Linked DNA regions of Homo sapiens. The protein of the gene in region 1 binds, or shares a complex with, the protein of each later gene. Each region holds a gene or a part of one and is shown in the gene's direction. Other genes may lie near its edges. The genes, in order: ULBP3 and KLRC4-KLRK1.

The links.
Region 2: the proteins of ULBP3 (region 1) and KLRC4-KLRK1 are in contact, whole or in part, in a crystal structure (PDB 1KCG), measured with the Homo sapiens proteins. Residues at the interface, in NP_078794.1 of Homo sapiens: His42, Leu43, Pro44 (codon at 65), Trp50 (codon at 83), Glu97 (codon at 224), Gln100 (codon at 233), Arg103 (codon at 242), Leu104 (codon at 245), Ala107 (codon at 254), Asp108 (codon at 257); in NP_001186734.1 of Homo sapiens: Lys150, Ser151, Tyr152, Ile182, Glu183, Met184, Gln185, Lys186, Ala193, Tyr199, Glu201.

The regions. Positions count from the first base shown.
Region 1 is NC_000006.12:150,060,429-150,066,185, reverse strand, and holds the end of ULBP3 (UL16-binding protein 3 precursor), read left to right. Parts: intron 1-23; coding exon 24-287; intron 288-512; coding exon 513-788; intron 789-1,472; coding exon 1,473-1,579; 3' UTR 1,580-1,601; intron 1,602-2,834; 3' UTR 2,835-5,133; downstream 5,134-5,757.
Region 2 is NC_000012.12:10,386,118-10,393,305, reverse strand, and holds part of KLRC4-KLRK1 (NKG2-D type II integral membrane protein), read left to right. Parts: intron 1-1,414; 5' UTR 1,415-1,471; intron 1,472-3,264; exon of another isoform or gene 3,265-3,363; intron 3,364-4,430; 5' UTR 4,431-4,495; coding exon 4,496-4,535; intron 4,536-6,295; coding exon 6,296-6,403; intron 6,404-7,188. Other genes in the region: KLRK1 (NKG2-D type II integral membrane protein), read left to right, coding at 4,496-4,535, 6,296-6,403.

The DNA.
Region 1 (5,757 bases):
GTGTTTTTTTTTTTTTTCCTTAGACGCTCACTCTCTCTGGTATAACTTCACCATCATTCATTTGCCCAGACATGGGCAACAGTGGTGTGAGGTCCAGAGCCAGGTGGATCAGAAGAATTTTCTCTCCTATGACTGTGGCAGTGACAAGGTCTTATCTATGGGTCACCTAGAAGAGCAGCTGTATGCCACAGATGCCTGGGGAAAACAACTGGAAATGCTGAGAGAGGTGGGGCAGAGGCTCAGACTGGAACTGGCTGACACTGAGCTGGAGGATTTCACACCCAGTGGTGAGTGAAAGAGACCAAGGACAGAAGGGAGCAGACTGTGGGCTCAGGGGCTGTTCTGTGTGTGGGGAGAAGAAATTAGACATGGGACCTCCATGAAGCCCAGCAGCAAGGGCAGGACTTGGAGGAGACAACAGGACCAGATGAGAATGGTCTCAGCATAGGAGGATGTGGGACAGGGAAGAGAATTTGTAAACACCAGGGCTGATCTCTTTCTGATTGGGGCAGGACCCCTCACGCTGCAGGTCAGGATGTCTTGTGAGTGTGAAGCCGATGGATACATCCGTGGATCTTGGCAGTTCAGCTTCGATGGACGGAAGTTCCTCCTCTTTGACTCAAACAACAGAAAGTGGACAGTGGTTCACGCTGGAGCCAGGCGGATGAAAGAGAAGTGGGAGAAGGATAGCGGACTGACCACCTTCTTCAAGATGGTCTCAATGAGAGACTGCAAGAGCTGGCTTAGGGACTTCCTGATGCACAGGAAGAAGAGGCTGGAACCCACAGGTAACTGACAGGGGAGCACTGGGAGCATGTTGGAGATGCCATCGAGTTACACCCTTGTCTGTCAGTGTCTGAGTATGGTGGGTGTGGGTGTATGGGTGTGAGTGGGTGTGAGTCTATGTATGTGTGAGTGTGAGTGTGTGTTTGAGTGAGTGTAAGAACATGAACCCCTCATGGGGGCCTCCTCCTTGGGGTGCCTATGCTCTCCCTCCTGACTCCTCTTCCTCACTGCACTTGCTTTTGCTCCACTCACTGTGGATTTCTCACCAGCCTCAAAACTGTGGGCGTCATTGTGTTTCTAGACCTTTCTCCTTAGATTTCCCTCCTCCTAGGATCACTTTTCCTTTCCTCTCCCTTGGTTTGTTTCTGGAAATCCATCAAAACCACCTCGAATGGCAGCCCCGAGACTCTCCTGTCCCGGCCCTAGGGCATCACCTCCTCTTCCGCCACAGCAGGAGGGTGGGCTGTGCTGTCACCTTGCTTCCCTCAGCAGCTGTGTGAGCTCCCTGAGGACAGGGAGCACCCCTTCTCCCTTCCTACCCCCAGGACCTGTCACAGCGGCTGCCCCACAGCAGGGGAGACAAATCCTCTGCCTTCCCGGATGACCTGGGGTAGCAGGAGCTAAGGAGCCATCTCCTCAGATTTGGAGCGTGGACAAGAGTTGTCACTTTTGTGTTTCCCTTTCAGCACCACCCACCATGGCCCCAGGCTTAGCTCAACCCAAAGCCATAGCCACCACCCTCAGTCCCTGGAGCTTCCTCATCATCCTCTGCTTCATCCTCCCTGGCATCTGAGAAGAGTCATTTAGAGTGACAGGTACTGTGGGCAAAACTGTGAGGGGAACGAGAGACAGATGGGTGAGGTGGGAGGAAGGGAAAGGAGAATTTCCAGAGTCCCACCTCTCCCCATGGCCGGGACCTTCTCGTTCTGACATGAGACAGGTGAATGAGACCTGGTGTCGCCTGTTTGCAATGACCTGGGCAGCTCAACCTTGAGTTCTGATGGATTCTCACCATCAGGGCCAGAGGGAAAGGGAGGGACCCATATCAAGGCTCAGGGCCGGTTGAGTTCAAGAGGGTTTAGACAGTTCAGGCCTATTTCACAGCAGGTTTCTATCTGGGAAGGGTAGTGGTGTGTGGCCTGCAGGCAGCAGGAACTCAGGCATGGGCAGTCTGCACAGTAGGAGAGGAGTAGCATGGCCACTTCACCAAGGATGTCAAGGGAAGGGGTGTCCCTGGAGGAGGCTAAGAAGAGAGAAACCTGGGGGAATCCCAGGACGAGGGGGCTGTGAGGGCCTTGGCCCACCCAGTTCCTAAGGCTGCATTCCCAGAGAGAGCACCTTGAGTCCCAGCAGTTAAGGTGGAAGGTGAAGAGTAGAGCGTGTCCAGGATGAGGTTTAGGAAATGGCCGAGCCCCTTGGACCCATGGGATTCCTGGCTAGGCCCTGGGACGATGCCACTGCCATTCTGCCTCGTGCACACTCCAGATCCTGAGCCAGCTGATGGCCCTGCCTGGAGCAGAGTGGACTCAGCTAGGGCAGCTGAGCTGCTGCTAGAGGTCCGTGGTCACCACTGAGCTTGGCCAGGAATGAATGGGGCAGGGCAGGGACAGTCCCATTCAGAGCTATGGGTGCAGCTCCCAGGGTGAGGAGAGGCTGAGAGCGAAGGAGAAAGAAGGTTTGCCTACAAACCCACCCAAGGCCAGGGAACATGGATCCAGAGACCTCTCTTTGGACAGGGCTCCCCCAGGTCCTCTAGACCCTTCTATGAAAGGGAGGAGCAGGCCCTGAGTGAGGGTGCAGACCCCTCATTACCAGCCTCAGGTCTGAGCCCCTATGGGCTGTAACAGGACCTGGGCTGCCTCTGTGGTGTGGTGAAGGAGGGTGGAGGTTGGGAAAGGCTGCACAGCCAGGGGTAGGGTTGGAGGGAAAAACATGTTCCTTATCTGGGGGAGAAGCTCTGAAATGGGGAGGGCCTGGGAAGGATCACCCAGGAGAACAGACCCAGGTTTTTCTCAGCCACTTAAACCAATGCTTCATCTTTCCTCAAGGTGGAAGGTGATATCAAGAAGCCTCTGTTAGCCTGGTCTGGTTCCTGCTCTCCCTTCAGGGAGGCCGCCTGTCTACTCACCACTGTGCCTTTCTGGAAAGCAGGAGTTCAAGCCTTAGCAAGCCCAGAGGCCCCCAGCAGATGATGAGGACATTGTCGGCTCAACATCTCAGGCCACTCATTACCTTCGCTCATGATCCCAGCAGCCATTTTTCTTTTTTTTTTTTTGTTTTTTTTTTTTTTTGAGACGGAGTCTCGCTCTGTCGCCCAGGCCGGACTGCGGACTGCAGTGGCGCAATCTCGGCTCACTGCAAGCTCCGCTTCCCGGGTTCACGCCATTCTCCTGCCTCAGCCTCCCGAGTAGCTGGGACTACAGGCACCCGCCACCGCGCCCGGCTAATTTTTTGTATTTTTAGTAGAGACAGGGTTTCACCTTGTTAGCCAGGATGGTCTCGATCTCCTGACCTCATGATCCACCTGCCTCGGCCTCCCAGAGTGCTGGGATTACAGGCGTGAGCCACCGCGCCCGGCCAGCCATTTTTCTTAACACCTTCTGCCACTTTCTCTCGGTGCTAATGGATGGAATTCCTGCACAAGTTTTAACTGAACAAGAAATCCCAGCAAAAGGCATTTTCTTTCTACTTCTTTGATTGTGGAAAAGCAGACATTTCTCTGAAGCATGACCTTATTCTTCGAAACGGTATTGCTAGTAAAATAGCATGCAGGACTTCAGACCTCAGGGATCCTTTCCATGCACTGACCAAGAATTGTATTAATCCTTTTTATCATTATAGTTTTTTTACATTTTCTCATTCTGTCAACCATATTGGAGTGAAGTGGCATAGTCATCACTCACTGTAATCTCCAACTCCTGGGCTCAAGTGATCCTCTAGACTCAGCCTCTAGAGTAGCTGGGACTACAGGCGCATGCCACCATGCCTGGCAAATTGTTTTATATTTAGGTAGAGATTGGGTCTTCCTATGTTGCGCAGGTAATAAAACTGTGAAAATCCTGGAATATAAGCTAAGAAATACCAATGTGGACATAGGGCCTGGCAAAGATTTCATGAAGAAGACACTAAAAACAATTGTAACAAAAACAAAAATTGACAAATGGGACCTCATTAAACTAAAGAGCTTCTGCACAGAAAAAGAAACTAGCAACACGGTAAACAGACAGCGTGTAGAATGGGGAAACTATTTGCAAACTCTGCATCTGACAAAGGTCCAATATCCAGAATCTACAAAGTACTTAAACAATTAGACAAGCAAGAAAAAAAAACCCAATTAAAAAATGTGCAAAGACATGAACAGACACTTTTCAAAAGAAGACATACAAGTGGCCAACAAACGTGAAAAAATGCTCAATATCACTAATCATCAGATAAGTGCAAATCAAAACTGCAATGAGTTACCATCTCTTACCAGTCACAAAGTTGGAGATGGTGGTGAGGCTGCAGAGGAAAAGAAACAGACACTGTTGGTGGGAAAGCAAACTTGTTCAGCCGCTATGGAAAGCAGTTTGGAGATTTCTCCAAGAACTTAAAATAGAACTACCATTCAAGCCTGCAATCCCACTACTCGGGATATATCCACAGGAAAAGAATTCATTTTATCCAAAAGACACCTGCACCAATATGTTCATTACAGTGCTATTCTTACTAGCAAGGACACAGAATCAACCTAAGTGCCCAGCAACACTGAATTGAATGAAAAAAATGTGGTACATAAACACCATGGAAATCTATGCAGCCACCAAACACAGCAAAATCATGTCCTTTTCAGCAACATGGATGGAACTAGAGGCTATTATCCTAAGCAACCTAATGCAAGAACAGAAAACTACATACTGCATGTTCCCATTGGAAAGTGGCAGCTACACATTGAATTCACATGAACCAGAGGCACTGGAGATTACTAGACAGGTGAGACAGGAGGGGCACCTGGGCTGAAAAACCACCTGTTGGGTACCATGCTTACTGTTTGAGTGATGAGATCATTGGGACACCAAGCCTCAGCCTTCCAAAATCTACCCATGTAACAAACCTGTATGTGTACCCTTTAATCTATAATAAAGGTTAAAATTAAAGATTCGTAAGTAAAATAAAATGACATAGAGCCCTCCAAAAAATGGGGTTAACTGAGTGGAACGAGAGAACTTTGCACTATGAACGCTAACCCAGATCAAAAACTAAACTCTAGTCATTTAAAATAATCGTAAGTTGTATATGATGATAATTGTATAAAAGTTATACGTGAAAGTGCCAAACCCTAAAATTAAACACTGCATAATGAAATTATACAAGATTTCCATTTCCATCTTGTTCTTTATACCCTTACTTTTTTTTTTTTTTTTTTTTTTTTTTGCCAGTTTCAAGTGACATTTTTTTTGTTTATCCTCAGGAAATCCTTGCTGTCAGCCTTCTCCTTCTACACCCACCCCCTCCTTTTCCACCGTCCACATCAGCTCTTCCTCTGGTCTGGGACTGTGGCATTCTTGGCACTGAAGGCACAAGAGCTGCATTCAGCCTCAGGAGAGAGGAGGACACAGGGCAGGTTGTGGAGGTGGTCTCACCATTGGAGGGGAACCTAACAGCTTAGGCCCTCTATCACAGATGGCTGTGTTTCTCCACCAGGTTAGCTACAACCAAGCCAACCTTGCCCCTTTCCTCATTGTTTTTTTTCTAATTCTTCCCAACTCGTACTTGAAAATTTATATTCTTCCTCCTAATATTTCTTCGTATTTCTTGTCTGCACAATATATCCTGATTTATTGTGCCCAGAAAACAGTGGACTCACCATGTCCGTGACAGCTGCAAGGACACAGTCTCCACTCACTGGAGGGGCATGCTGGGCTTGGAGCCCCTCAAAAGCCCCTGCCCCAGAGAACTCTATTTGACTAGTCTGGGACTCACTGGAAAAGC
Region 2 (7,188 bases), on another chromosome or scaffold:
TTAAACAATCAAAACAATGGTGTGTCCTAGCATGGATTAAGTTAATATAACACAAATATTTGCTAAAGATATTTCAATTGAATTGCTAAATTTTAGAATTATACAAAATTTCAACTGAGATGGGGCAAAAAAATCATTTAATCATTCCTGGCTTAGGAAGCTGTGCCAGAGAAAATTAATTAATTGCCAAGATGATGACCTGTTTTTCCCCAAAGTATAAATTCCAGATTTATGGAATCTCTGCCTTGAGTTCATATAATTACAATACACCAGTTAACATTATATGTCAGTATGTGTAGCCCAGTACTTAATACCTAGCTGAATGGAAAATAGGTTCTGAAAATATATATATACATATTTCTTAAAATATGTTTGCAGACTTTTTTACTTTTACATTAGTCATCATTTCACTTCTGCTTCAATATGCCCATGCGTGTCCAGACGAGACTGGATGCATCATGGTGGTGTGGCCATAGATGCCCCTGCATATCCAAAGACTCAGCTCTATTTCTTCCACTCCTTTTTATTTTCTTTATTGTCCATGTGAATTTTAAAAATTTGTCCTTTTTGACATGTCTTTTGTCAATTCAAACACATTTACCAAAAGGTCAAGATTACAAAATTTTTGCTTGGCAATAGCTGCACATCTTAAGCTTTCATATTTGGGCAAGCGTCCAGTAAACGCCTCTGACCACATCCAGCTTTAGTGTCACAGCTTGAAGCCAGCAACCTGCCAAGCACTCTGTTTCTAACCACAAGTTGGCTGCGTGTTAAGTCTTTCCTGTGTACCAGAAGAGAAGGGTTTTCTGAGGCCACAGTGCGAGTTAGCTTACTGACCAAAAAGGCCGGTTGATTGTTGGCTCTTCTCAACTAATGAAAGTAATTAAATAGTTTATTGTGGTGATGGATGTTCTCAAATGACTTGAGCCCAGGCTGTTTGCAAAATATTGTAATTTTTCTTCTAACAATAGTTTTTGAAAGTTATATAGATACGTCTATATGAAGTTTGTTCAGGTACTTTTATAGTCAAATTATTCTTTCTGCAGAAGTTAATTGCGTTGGTTTTATTTCACTTATTAGAAAGTATTTTATCTGAAAACTATGCTATGTCCTTTTGCAATTCACATAGAATAAACCAGTACAAATGCCCAGCAAATCCCCAATAAGTTTACTATCATGACTACAGCAAAGTGAGTGTATGTTCAACATTGAGAAAGAAATTGGAGTTTTAACATACTATTTCTTTATCTAACTAATTGTTTTAACCCGACATACAGGACCCATTTTAGAATTTTCTTCTTTAAGAATCCTTTCCACACTCTGTCAGTTGGTTTAGGGACCTTTATATATGACAATAAAACTCTCCCTGGTGCTTAGCTTTATCATGGTATTTATTTCAGAAATCTTCTTTTAGGTATGTGTGGGGACTTCCCAGTTGGCTGTAAGTTGCCATTTGAACTAAACGAAATAGGTAGGATATTCAAATGTTCTTTTTTATCCTATTCCTATCCCCCTTTTCTCAATTCTGTATTTAAGAGACAATCTCTATTCAATCGAAAACTACATATATAAAAATAACTCTTCAGGAAATTGTGATTCAGGTTTTTCCCATAAAAAGCCTGCATTTACTCATTTATTCATTTCCTTTCAAAAACCAAATATTTGTTAAAATGTAGTTGTTAGAAAATATCAGCCTATATTTCCTCTATATAGATCTATTTTTACTATATAAAATAGCTAATAGAAAATGTTGATTAGCTGAAAAGAATCTTGGTATGTCAGAAAATAACATATTTTCTTCAACTTGTTTTATATTCACCTATCTTGTTTAATTTTGAATTTGTTTTATACTTATTCATTTTATATCACCTAAACTAAAAAGTAATTTCCAGCTGGGTGTGGTGGCTCACGTCTGTAATCTCAGCACATTGGGAGGCTGAGGCAGGAGGATCACCTGAGGTCAGGAGTTCGAGACCAGCCTGACTAACATGGTGAAACCTCGTCTCTACTAGAAATACAAAAATTAGCCAGGTGTGGTGGCACATGCCTGTAATCCCAGTTATTCTGGAGGCTGAGACAGGAGAATTGCTTGAACCCAGGTGGCGGAGGTTGCAGTGAGCCGAGATCGCCCCGTTGCACTCCAGCCTGGACAACAAGAGTGAAACTCCATCTCTTAAAAAAAAAAAAAAAAAAAGTAATTAATTTCCATGTGGGCAAAAACTTTCTTTTGGATTGTTTACTTTGACATTCTCAAGATCTAGAAAAGTGCATAGCAAATAGCATTCGCTAAAGAAAAAAAATGTTGAATAAATTTATTGTCCAACTTTAACACATCACCACATGAAAGCTGTTTTCCTTCCTTATATTTCAGAGTTTTAAGATTAATAGCTTTGGTTTTTGTTAAAATGTTATAATGTGTTCATCTTATATTACTTTATATGATGTCTTATGTTAGTATTTTAAATTAATAAACATAAAATATATATTTAGCTTATCTTGTTCATTGGTATCAATTCATATATTATTCTTATGTATACTGGGGTATATATTTAAGTTTCTAATTCTCCTGCATATGATGTAGATATGACAGAGATGCAATTTCATGTTTTTTATATTAAAATTTAAAAATTCCCAGGACTAATTTTTTGTAACTTAAAGGCCAGTGTGATAGTAACCCAGGACAAATTATTGAATAGGAGCTAATTTCCCACTTTATCTGCAATGTTACCTTATATTTTTTAATCTATGCACATGACTTTTTCTTGTCTGTATTTTTACCCTTCTCAATTTGTCTATCTATGCCCCACATGCCACTTTGCCTTTATTAATACGGTTTTAACATAGGTCTTACTATCTAGTAAAACAAGGCTCCCACATTTTCTTCATCTTCAATTGTGACTTTCCTAGTCTTGACTTTTGTAATTTAATGTACATGTAGAATTCTGCTTTGTAAGTTCTACAACAAAACCTGAGGTATTAACTGGAATTGAATTGAATCTCTAAAATATTTAGGATTAAATGGCATCATTTAAATTCATCATTTTCAAATCCTAAAATGTTATTTAAAATAATGGCAAAACTACAATTACTTTTGCACCAACCTAACATTTATCCAACAATGGGTGGTCTTAACTCTTTTACCAAATTAACAATATTTTTGTAGTGATAAGGCGGAAGTACTGTGGTTTATGTTTTTCCACAGGAAGATGAGATTATAATATTTGTCACATCTTTCTCAAAGATAGAAATTCACTAAGTATCTCCACTTTCAATTCTAGATCAGGAACTGAGGACATATCTAAATTTTCTAGTTTTATAGAAGGCTTTTATCCACAAGAATCAAGATCTTCCCTCTCTGAGCAGGTGTGTGTATGTGTGTATGTGTGTGTGTTTATTATTCAAGATATGAGAAATTATATTTCAACCTCAAAAAAATAAAAATATTTACACTATAAGGTAATTCTAATTGTTTCTTAGATGCTTGAATAGAACTCCTGAGGATACGGAATGCTTATCATTTCTGATGTATATTCTATCACTGTATCTGATGATAGGTAATTAGGATATACTTATTGAAGAATCAGAAGTTGTAATATTACTATAAGAAGAAGCCTTGTCTCTAAGCAAAACTAGAAAAATGAATCTTTACATTTAGGATGAGAAGAATTGAGATTCAATTTAAATTGTCAAATTTTTGAGTTTTCTGATGCTGTAGGGGGCACTTACCTTTGATACACATCTTTACATGCAAGGTGAAACAAGTTATATCTGTGCTTTCCAACTATCATAATCAAATATGAAATAGCTTTTATTTTTGAAATCTAAGCACTATGCTTATTTATTAAATGGTTTTTTCTGGAAGCTCTGCTGTGCATTGCTAAGATGTTACTATATAAACATGTGAGATTAGTTTTGTTAATGATGATGGTGATGATAATTTGTTGATGATGATGATATGGGCACGTTGGATTAAAATGCACTAGAAAAGGACATTCAACAAAAGTGCATATAACTTACCTGAGTTTAGCTTGCAGAAAGAAAACTAAATTATTGCCAGATAAAATAAACAACTGGAAACACTTGATCTTAGCTAAAAGGCCAAGAAGCAATAAACGACTATAAACAGAAAACTGGGTGTGTTGTTATCTAATATCAGTAAAGTAAAATATTGGTATTAAATATCTCAATGTAGGTGAATTAATAGGTTCATTATATTGTTATGACATTTTGAAGTAATTGGCGATTATTTTACAACCAAGAGAAATGTATAAAATTAATTTTGCCTGGCTTTATGTGAATTGTCATTTCTATTCTTTTCTTAAAGGCATGCACAGGGGAAAAGTTTCTGCATTTTACTTTTCTATTCAAAATATTTTATCTCACCACGGGAAAGAGAACAAAAAACAAATGCCCAGTTTTATTTTATTCAGGAATCCTTTGTGCATTGAAGACTTTAGATTCCTCTCTGCGGTAGACGTGCACTTATAAGTATTTGATGGGGTGGATTCGTGGTCGGAGGTCTCGACACAGCTGGGGTATGTTTTTACCACATAAGTGTGTAGTTTTGTTTTTATACAATTTTAAGATACCAAGAATTTCATACAAGCATATAAGGCATAGGCAAGCAATTTACTCTGATTCTTTTCATGTTCTATTTATGTTGATTTCATGTTATGTTCATATTGTATTTTAAATCAAGTCTTCCAAAACTTAAAAACTTTTTTCCCTTTATTTTATTAACTATATTATGGTAAAGTCGCTCACAACTTGGGACAGCTTGAAATAGTGAAATAGATGTGGAGTCAGACTTGAATTTTACTCAAACTTTTACCGCTCTCTAGATTTGAAGGGTCAATTTGCAACCTCTGTGTAGTTTAGTTTAGTTTCTTTTTCTATCAAATACAGGCATGAAACATTCCATATTTATCTTAGATTTGTGTAATATTCAAATCAACTGACATGTATGTTAAAGCACTTTTTATCCTAAAGGTGTTTATAAATTTATAACTTATTCACAGTTGGTAACATTATATTAAATAAGCTTTATGATTTTGGCCATCTCTAGCATTCAATTTCTTCATCCATAAAGTGATACCTACTCTCTTTACTCCATATGTAAAATAACTGAGTTAGGTATTACATGCGCAATCAATGTCTAATTTTACCTATAAAATATAATTCATATTATCATTTAATTTATAAAAGGCTTTTGTACAACAAACCCCCGTGACATGAATTTACATATGTAACAAACCTTCGCATGCACCCCTGAACCAAAAATAAAAGTTTAAAAAAGGCTTTTAAGTAAATATTAATCATCAGTAAATAATTAATATTTCAAGAGAGCAAAATGATTCTTTAGGTATTTTGTTCAGAGGCAAGATTATCTGTCTTTGTTCTAAATCATTAGACCCCACTATTTTAGCCTATGTATGTCCTTCATTATAAAGAAAATTAGATGGCTGGGCACAGTGGCTCATGCCTATAATCCCAGAAATTTGGGAGGCTGAGGTGGGTAGATCACCTGTGGTCAGGAGTTCGAGACCAGCCTGGCCAATATGGTGAAACCCCGTCTGTACTAAAAATACAAAAATTAGCCAGGTATGGTGGCACAAGCCTGTAATCCCAGCTACTCAAGAGGCTGAGGCAGGAGAACCGCTTGAACCCAGGAGGCGGCGGTTGCAGTGAGCCAATATCACGCCATTGCACTCCATCTCAAAAAAAAAAAAAGAAAAGAAGAAAATTAGACACACTGCTATTTACTAAAAGCTTACTAAATGATTGATGTTATTGATGCTAAGTTCATTATATTTTTATTTTATTTTTAAAATACCCATACTGGATTGTGACAGTATCCTTTTCTTTTTTATTTCTTTCGTCTTTTGCAAATTAGGAAAACTGGGATGCAAAAGCTAGGTTATTTGTGAAGTTATCAAGTTTGTATATGTGGATCTGTGATTTAAATACATGTCTTTCTCCCTACATCTGCCTTTTCACTAACCAAGTCCCTTTCTGGTAATGTTAGGTTTCATTATACATTACGAATTAACTAATTTTAATAGTATATAGGATTTTGCTAAGGGTACTTTCCATGGCATAAATATAGTTTTATTTATATAGTAAAGTGTAAACATAATAATGTAGTACTATAAAACAAAAGTAAGTTCATGTTGTACTTTAAAAAGGATAGTCAGGGGAAGTACATAGATGGAAATGGCAAGCTGAATTTTTAAAATTTATGCCCCAAATGGCAGAAAGGCCATGACTCATATAAGCCTGAATTCTTTTTCTCTAGAGATGAGTGAATTTCATAATTATAACTTGGATCTGAAGAAGAGTGATTTTTCAACACGATGGCAAAAGCAAAGATGTCCAGTAGTCAAAAGCAAATGTAGAGAAAATGGTAAGTCCTATGTTCCATTTGTCTACTCTCAGTATATTGAAATGAATCTTGGAAACTATGTGATTAAATGAATGGCAATCATTCAGTTGACTTTATCTTCATGAGGAAAGCAGGAATAACATGAACTCTCATATAATATTAAAATATATAATAAAATTATGGTATTAAAAGCTATTGAGTTTAGAATATTGTCACGCCCTAAAAAATGATGAGTTTATTATCATGATAATATAATCGAGGCAGGAGTTTCTAAGAGATCACTGAAAAGAAAACTAAATAGAAATGAAAAAGAGAAGAGAAAAGATATTTTAAAAACCCTCCAGAGATATGTTCCTAAACATTATAGAAGTGGTAGCTTGATTATTATTTATAGAATTGTTTCTGAGTTCAGTGAAGAAGATATATTCTCCAATGACTTTTTTCAAAGCAGAATATTATTGGTAATAGACCTTTATATAGTTTGTATGAAAAGGAAAACAACAGATGACCCTCACTTATCAATTTTTATTAAAAACTAAGAAACAAATTATTAACAAATAGCATCTCTTTACAAGAATTAATTTAAGGAATGCAAAGTGCTATATGTAAAAATCCCTTTTTGGACTAAAATATTCAATTGTTACCAAAATTTAAAACACACATGCCCTTTCCCTCAACAATTATCATTGTGGGAATTTATCCCAGAGAGAGACTCAAAAATATGCACAGATGGGTATGAAATGTATCATTATTTCTCATAGCAAGACCTAAGAAACAATTTAAATATCCACTGGAAAAAAAAATTG